Linked DNA regions of Homo sapiens. The protein of the gene in region 1 interacts with the protein of each later gene in a pairwise test. Each region holds a gene or a part of one and is shown in the gene's direction. Other genes may lie near its edges.

Region 1 (3,500 bases):
TGTAGCTATAAGAACTTCACGTATGCATGTATGTATTACAGAAAAATCCTTTGACACTTAAATGTAGGGGGAAAAAACACCTCTACTTGAGTATTTGGGTTAGTTAAGGCTTTATTGAACTTTCTTGCGTATGTTTTTTTCTTACTCTTCAGTGGCCCGAACCTGTAACTTGATCTTGATTGTTCTGGATGTCCTGAAACCTTTGGGACATAAGAAGATAATTGAAAATGAGCTGGAAGGCTTTGGCATTCGCTTGAACAGCAAACCCCCCAACATTGGCTTTAAGAAGAAGGACAAGGGAGGCATTAATCTCACAGCCACTGTAAGTGGGGAATATGACATGGGGCAGGCTGCTGCAGGAATTGGAATGGGGAGTGGATTGGGGTGCATGGACCCTGACATTGGAAAATTTCCTGGCTTTTCCCTGCACTAATTGAGATAACACAATGACTTTATAATGACTGACAAGAAAAACTTCAAGATTAGGATAGGAGCCAGTCTCAGACTTACCTTTGCTACTTATTTCCTCTTTTGGATTATCTATTGGGAATGATATGGGCGTGTGGACCAATATTATGCTTGCATAAAGTAGATGGCCGCCAATATCTTCTGTTTTCATTCATTTAACACAAATTTATAGAGTGCCTACCACGGGCCAAGCATTATTTTAGGCTCTGGGCAGGAATGGAAGAGGGAATAGTGAAACCCCCTGCTTTTATATTCTAATTGGATAGAATAGAAAACAATGTTAATGAGTAAAATATAATGTATTCGTCAATGATAAATATAAGAACACAAAGTAGGGAAAGGAGATAAGAGTGTTGGTGTGAGGGTTGCAGTTTTAAGAACGTTGGTCAGGGAAGTCTTTACTGAGGTGACATGAAGGTGTGAACCAAGTGGATATCTTGAAGAAGAGCATTTGCTTCATGCCTCAACCTCCTGAGTAGCTGGGATTACAGGTGCCTGCCATCGCACCCAGCTAACTTTTGTATTTTTAGTAGAGACGGGGTTTCACCATGTTGGCCAGGCTGGTCGGTTTCATTCTGTTGCTTAGGCTGGAGTACAGTGGCACAATCATAGTTCACTGTTAGCTCAAAACTCTTGGGCTCAAGTGACCCTCCTGCCTCAGCCTTCTAAGTAGCTAGGGCTAAGTCACATGCCTCCAGGCTTGGCTAATTTTTTTTTTTTTTTTTTTTTTTGGTAGAAACGGAGATTTGCCATGTTGCCCAGGCTGGTCTTGAACTTTTGGCCTCAAGCTGTCTCCTGCTTCGGTCTCCCAAAGTGTTGGGATTACAGGTATGAGCCACCATACCCAGCCATGTTTTTTATTTCCTGAGCTAAAAAAAAAATGAACTCTTATTACTAAAATGGTAGGACTTTTGGTAGAATAGATTTGGAGGGAAGGAGAAGATCAGGATGTTAAATTTTAGATGCCAGTGAGACATCCAGGTATTTCAGTCAAGAGGGCATGTGGGGTAGGCTGGGCATGGTGGCTCATGCCTGTACATCTATAATCCCAGCACTTTGGGAGGTTGAGGCAGGAGGATCACTTGAGCCCAGGAGTTCAAGACCAGCTTGGGCAACAAAGTGAGACCCCATCTCTATAAAAATAATAAAGAAGGCATGAGGAATTATCTAGGCTGGATATATAAATTTGGTGATTATCAACTTTAATGTCATGGGCCTAACTGAGATCACCAAGGATGTGAGTATAGATAGAAAAGAAAAGAGAGCTGGGTGCAGTGGCTCACACCTGTAATCCCAGTACTTTGGGAGTCCGAGGTGGGCGGATCACAAGGTCAAGAGATGGAGACCATCCTGGCCAACATGGTGAAACCCTGTATCTACTAAAAACACAAAAATTAGCCGGGCATGGTGGCACGCACTTGTAATCTCAGCTACTCGGGAGGCTGAGGCAGGAGAATCGAACCCAAGAGGTGGAGGTTGCAGTGAGCCGAGATGACGCCACTGCACTCCAGCCTGGTGACAGAGCGGGACTCCGTCTCAAAAAAAAAAAGAAAGAAAGAAAGAAAAGAAAAGAGAATCGGCCAGGCACGGTGGCTTACGCCTGTAATCCCAACACTTTGGGAGGCCGAAGTGGGCAGATTACATGAGGTCAGGAGTTGGAGGCCAGCCTGACCAACATGGCAAAACCCTGTCTGTACTAAAAATACAAAAATTAGCCAGGCGTGGTGGCACGTGCCTGTGATCCTGGTACTTCGGAGGCTGAGGCAGGAGAATTGCTTGAACCCAGGAGGCGGAGGTTGCAGTGAGCTGAGATCGCGCCACTGCACTCCAGCCTGGGCAACAAGAGCAAAACTCCGTCTCAAAAGAAAAAAAAGAAAGAAAAGAGACTCAGAGAAATAAGACTTCTTAGACCAAGAGAGAGAAGGAAAACTGAAAGAGTTTGAAATACTGGAAGCCAAGTAAAGTGTTTCACATAGGAGTGACCAATTCTGTCAAATGCTGCTTCTCTGTCAGAATTGAGGACTGAGAGTTTCCTACTAAATTTAACACTTCAGAGCCCAGATGATTTGACTGGCATAGGTTTCAGCTGTCCTGCCCAAAACATCTTTCCCATTATCCCGTCTTAATATTCAAATTTGAACATTTAAGATTATTTCTGTGTTAGTTTCAGTGCTGCCATAATACGGTACCACAGATGGGTGGCTTAAATAACAGAAATTTATTTTTCATAATTCTAGAGGCTAGAAGTCTGAGATGAAGTTGATGGCAGGGTTGATTTCTTCTGAGGCTTCTGTCCTTGGCTTACAGATGGGACTTCATATGGTGTTTGCTCTGTGTGTCTGTGTCCTAATCTCCTTTTCTTATTAGGACCACCAGTATTGGATTATGGCCCCACCCTAATGACCTTATTCTAATTTGATTACCGCTTTAAAGACCCTATCTCCAAATACATCACATTCTGAGATACTGAGGTTAAGACTTCATGTGAATTATTTGGTGGGGGAAGGAGGAACACAGTTCAGCGTGTAACACCTTCCTTGGAGTTTGGACATTTATTTCCTACTAAAAGTCAGTGACACTCATCCCGGATGTATTTAGTAATGAGTTTGCATCTTAGCTAGAATTTTCCAGGTACATGGATATTGGTACACTTGACAAGTATTTTTTTTAAATTTTGTGCTGACTAGTCATCTGCTATTCCCTTTCAGTGCCCCCAGAGTGAGCTGGATGCTGAAACTGTGAAGAGCATTCTGGCTGAATACAAGATTCATAATGCCGATGTGACTCTACGTAGTGATGCTACAGCTGATGACCTCATTGATGTGGTGGAAGGAAACAGGTACTGACTGAGTGTGCAGTCTGTGCCTGACTGAATTGGAAGCCTTGTGATGGAAACAGTATTGGATCTTGAATCTGGCAGAAGTTTATCTTAATTCCAGTTGTCCTACTGTCTTTTTTTTTTTTTTTTTTTTTGAGATGGAGTCTCACTCTGTTGCCCAGGCTAGAGTGCAGTGGCGTGATCTCAGCTCACT
Region 2 (3,500 bases), on another chromosome or scaffold:
GAAAAATAAGGATAGCATTCCAGCTGGGCAGATCTAATTCGAGAATAAACAGGATGTGCCTGTAGATCAATGAAAAGAAAGGCCAACTGGAGTAGAGGTGGCCTGTTGGAATGGTCAGTTTAAAGCAGTTAGGAAAAAAAAAATACAGAAATACCTTTAAATTTTTTTGATAAAATAATATTATATTTTCCATTTAAAATAAATACGTGTTTTTTAGGCCAGGTGTGGTGGTTCACGCCTGTAATCCCAGCACTTTTGGAGGCTGAGGAGGGCGGATCACCTGAGGTCGTGAGTTCAAGACCAGCCTGGCCAACATGGTGAAACCCCATCTCTACTGAAAACACAAAAATTAGCTGGGTGTGGTGGTGCACGCCTGTAATCCCATATACTCCAGAGGCTGAGGCATGAGAATCACCTCAACTCGGGAGCCGAGATCGCACCACTGCACTCCAGCCTAAGCAACAGAAGACTGTCTAAAAAAAAAAGAAAAAAGAAAAGAAAAGAAATATCTGTTTTTTAATTCAAGTGTTGATTGATAAGTTACATTATGTGTCATTTGAGAAAATCAAAGTCAGAAAACATGGACAGCATTATTTCAAAGCTTTATAATAATGCCTATTTAAAAAATTATAGTGTATGTATACTTACGTGTGTATATGTACATACATATGCAATCTCTCTGTGTGTATATATATATCTTTATATCTATACACTGTGTTATATATGTTGATAATCTCCATATAAATTATACAGCTATAATAATAGACTACTATATGTTCTCTATATTAGGTATTAGATGCATATATTATATATGTAGTATATTATAGTATATTATTTTAAAAAAATAACAGATATAATTAATGATACAAATCTACTAATAGAAAAAAACTAGAATAGACTTTATTTTCTTATTTTCTTTTTGACAGAAGACTTGTAGGGGCTTTTGCTTCAGTATAATATGTCAGTTTAACCAGTAATTGAGGAAGAGTATCTGTGGCTTTGCTAAAGATGTGGTTAGTTTAAAATGACCAGTCTCTCAGTTTACCCAAATACAAATTGACTCCTCTCTGAAAAGGCATGGATAGTGTCTTATTCCCAATAATTTACTCTTATATCAAAGGCTGCGAATAGTAATCTTTGTGGCCATCGTGGCATGAAGTGTATGAAGTGCTTGGAAGACGATGAGGATGAAATGCATTGCATTCTTCCTTCGCTTGCCTTCTTGTAACTCCCACATGTGACTGCATCACTCCTATTCCAGTTTCAGGGACTTCTCTTAGGAGTAAGCATCACAAGTTCAAGACCATTCGCATGGTCTATTTGAGAAGCCAAAAGCAATAGTGTTTTCTGTCATGTCTAGAGGCAATTACATTGGACCATGTTTTTGGCTGGGGAGAGACAGTAGCATAGAAACATCTAATCTATCTATATTGATGAATACTTAGAATTACTACAAAAAAGTTATTTAACTTTTTTGATAAAAAAATGAAGTATTTTATACATCTTATAAATGATTAAGTGAATGATTTTGACTAAATGATTTCTCTGCTATCATTGAATATAAAATGCCATGGGAAATTGAGATTGGGTTGCATAAATTGATCTGATGTGGCACCCTCAACAAATCTCAGGCCAACCTATACCTATATCAGGTATTCCCTTGGCCAATGGGGCAGTAGTAATGCAGGTATTCTGGTCCATTCTGAGACATGTCCTGATCTCACTCTATCTAGCTGCTTGCATTCCTTTTGACTCTGCAGAAATGTAAATTTTGAGTTTGATCAAGAACATAGAAGAGTTTTCATCTTCCCCTTTTGCAAGTAATTCTACCTGTACTAATAATGACAATAGTTTTATCAAATGTAGTTTAGTATCCTAATGTATAACAGCATATTTAAAAGAGATTTTGTACAACATACACCTGCCTAATTGTTTCCAAAAAAGAATTATTTGTGCCAAGATATCATAAAAAAGTATAAATTTTGTCTAATGCCAACCTAGTATTTTTTTATATTTTAATAGATACTTGGAATAAATCATATCTGGACTTCTAATCTCCCTAATACCAAAATAAAAATGTCAACACTATTGATGAGATTTAATTCTTGCAAAATATGTTTTGGTTTAACAGGTTGTGTATTTAGGCTCAGTGTTCCATGGTGATTAACAGTCTTTTGTTTTGAATTTCTATAGGTCTGGCTATTTTAGTTGCCACAGCATGGTATGGCAATAGAATCGTTCAAGAATTCTATGACCCTATGACCCCAGTCAATGCCAGGTAACGCTATTCAGGCGTAAAATAGTTTGTTTTCTGAGAAAATGCCCTTTTTATATTCTACAAAGTCCTGCTAGTGCCATCATTTCCCAGATTTGCTTTCAAGAATTTTATGTCAAACCTACAAACAATTTAAATGATCTCTGACTTATGTCAAAATGAGTTTGATAATTGCTTTAACACCCTGTATTGATGACAAAATACCTTCCAAAGTAGAAAAGTTTCAAGCTCTGTGCTTTTCAACTGTATAACTGGGCTTTCTTTTGTTTGTTTTTTCAAATATTAATAAAGATGTTAATATATTTGAAATTTCCTTTTTGAAGTGTATTCTGATGTTTACAACACCTACCTAAGATTATTTGTAACTAATGCACAGTTTATGATTGATTGAGAAAAATTATACTACTATAGGGGTTAATGAATAATACTTCATTCCCAACAGTTCATTTTTACACGTAAAGCTATTATGTATGTTTTTAGTATGTTCAGATACCACCTTGAAATTTTTTGTTCTTTCACAACTGTAAAATTGGCTTTACAAAGGTCATCTTTCTTAATACTGCAGGTTGTGCAAGTTGAGCTGATTCTTAGCTCTCGTGTAACAACATTCTTTAATCAGAGACGAGGCTCTTCATCTCACTGTCTTCACATCTTTAATGCCTAATAACTACATTCAGTCAGGATGTTAAAATATAATTATTGTTTGTTGAGTGCTTAGATGAATGGATGAAAAACCTCAGTGTTTGGAGAGATAAGATGTGTTTCTTTTTATATAATCACCCACATATGGGAGAACACATACTGCAATGGTTGTGTTGGAGCCCATCCCATAAGATTTACAGTGTAAGAATAGAAACTGCTAGAGGTCAGTAGGCTAAAATTTCGCCAAGGTAATAACACCAGTAATGCACAGGAAAGCACTTTATAAATTGCCAGCCATTTTGCAATTGTTATTTACATTATTGCATGTGATCCTAAAAGCAGTCTATTGAGGCAGGTGGGATTATCCTGCTTTGAGAGTAGGAGAAACTGAGGCTGAGAGGTGAAGTTGCTATCCCAGAATTGCAGCAGTTGAGAGTCTGCATCAGGATTTAGACTTGGCCTTATAACTTATAGAACCAACCCTTCTCTACTCTTCCGTATTGTCCATAATCACTCACAGATACCCCACCCTAAGTGTCTGCTTTAATACATCTGCCTGGATCAGCTTAATCCAGAATGGTTC

The links. Proteins that work in one complex are often made in the same cells at the same time.
Region 2: the proteins of DRG1 (region 1) and CLDN1 interact in a two-hybrid assay, tested with the Homo sapiens proteins (one large-scale study listed by BioGRID and IntAct).

What each region holds. Positions count from the first base shown.
Region 1 is NC_000022.11:31,420,104-31,423,603, forward strand, and holds part of DRG1 (developmentally-regulated GTP-binding protein 1), read left to right. Parts: intron 1-152; coding exon 153-322; intron 323-3,176; coding exon 3,177-3,307; intron 3,308-3,500. UniProt on the Homo sapiens protein: Catalyzes the conversion of GTP to GDP through hydrolysis of the gamma-phosphate bond in GTP. Appears to have an intrinsic GTPase activity that is stimulated by ZC3H15/DFRP1 binding likely by increasing the affinity for the potassium ions.
Region 2 is NC_000003.12:190,308,947-190,312,446, reverse strand, and holds part of CLDN1 (claudin-1), read left to right. Parts: intron 1-2,193; coding exon 2,194-2,278; intron 2,279-3,500.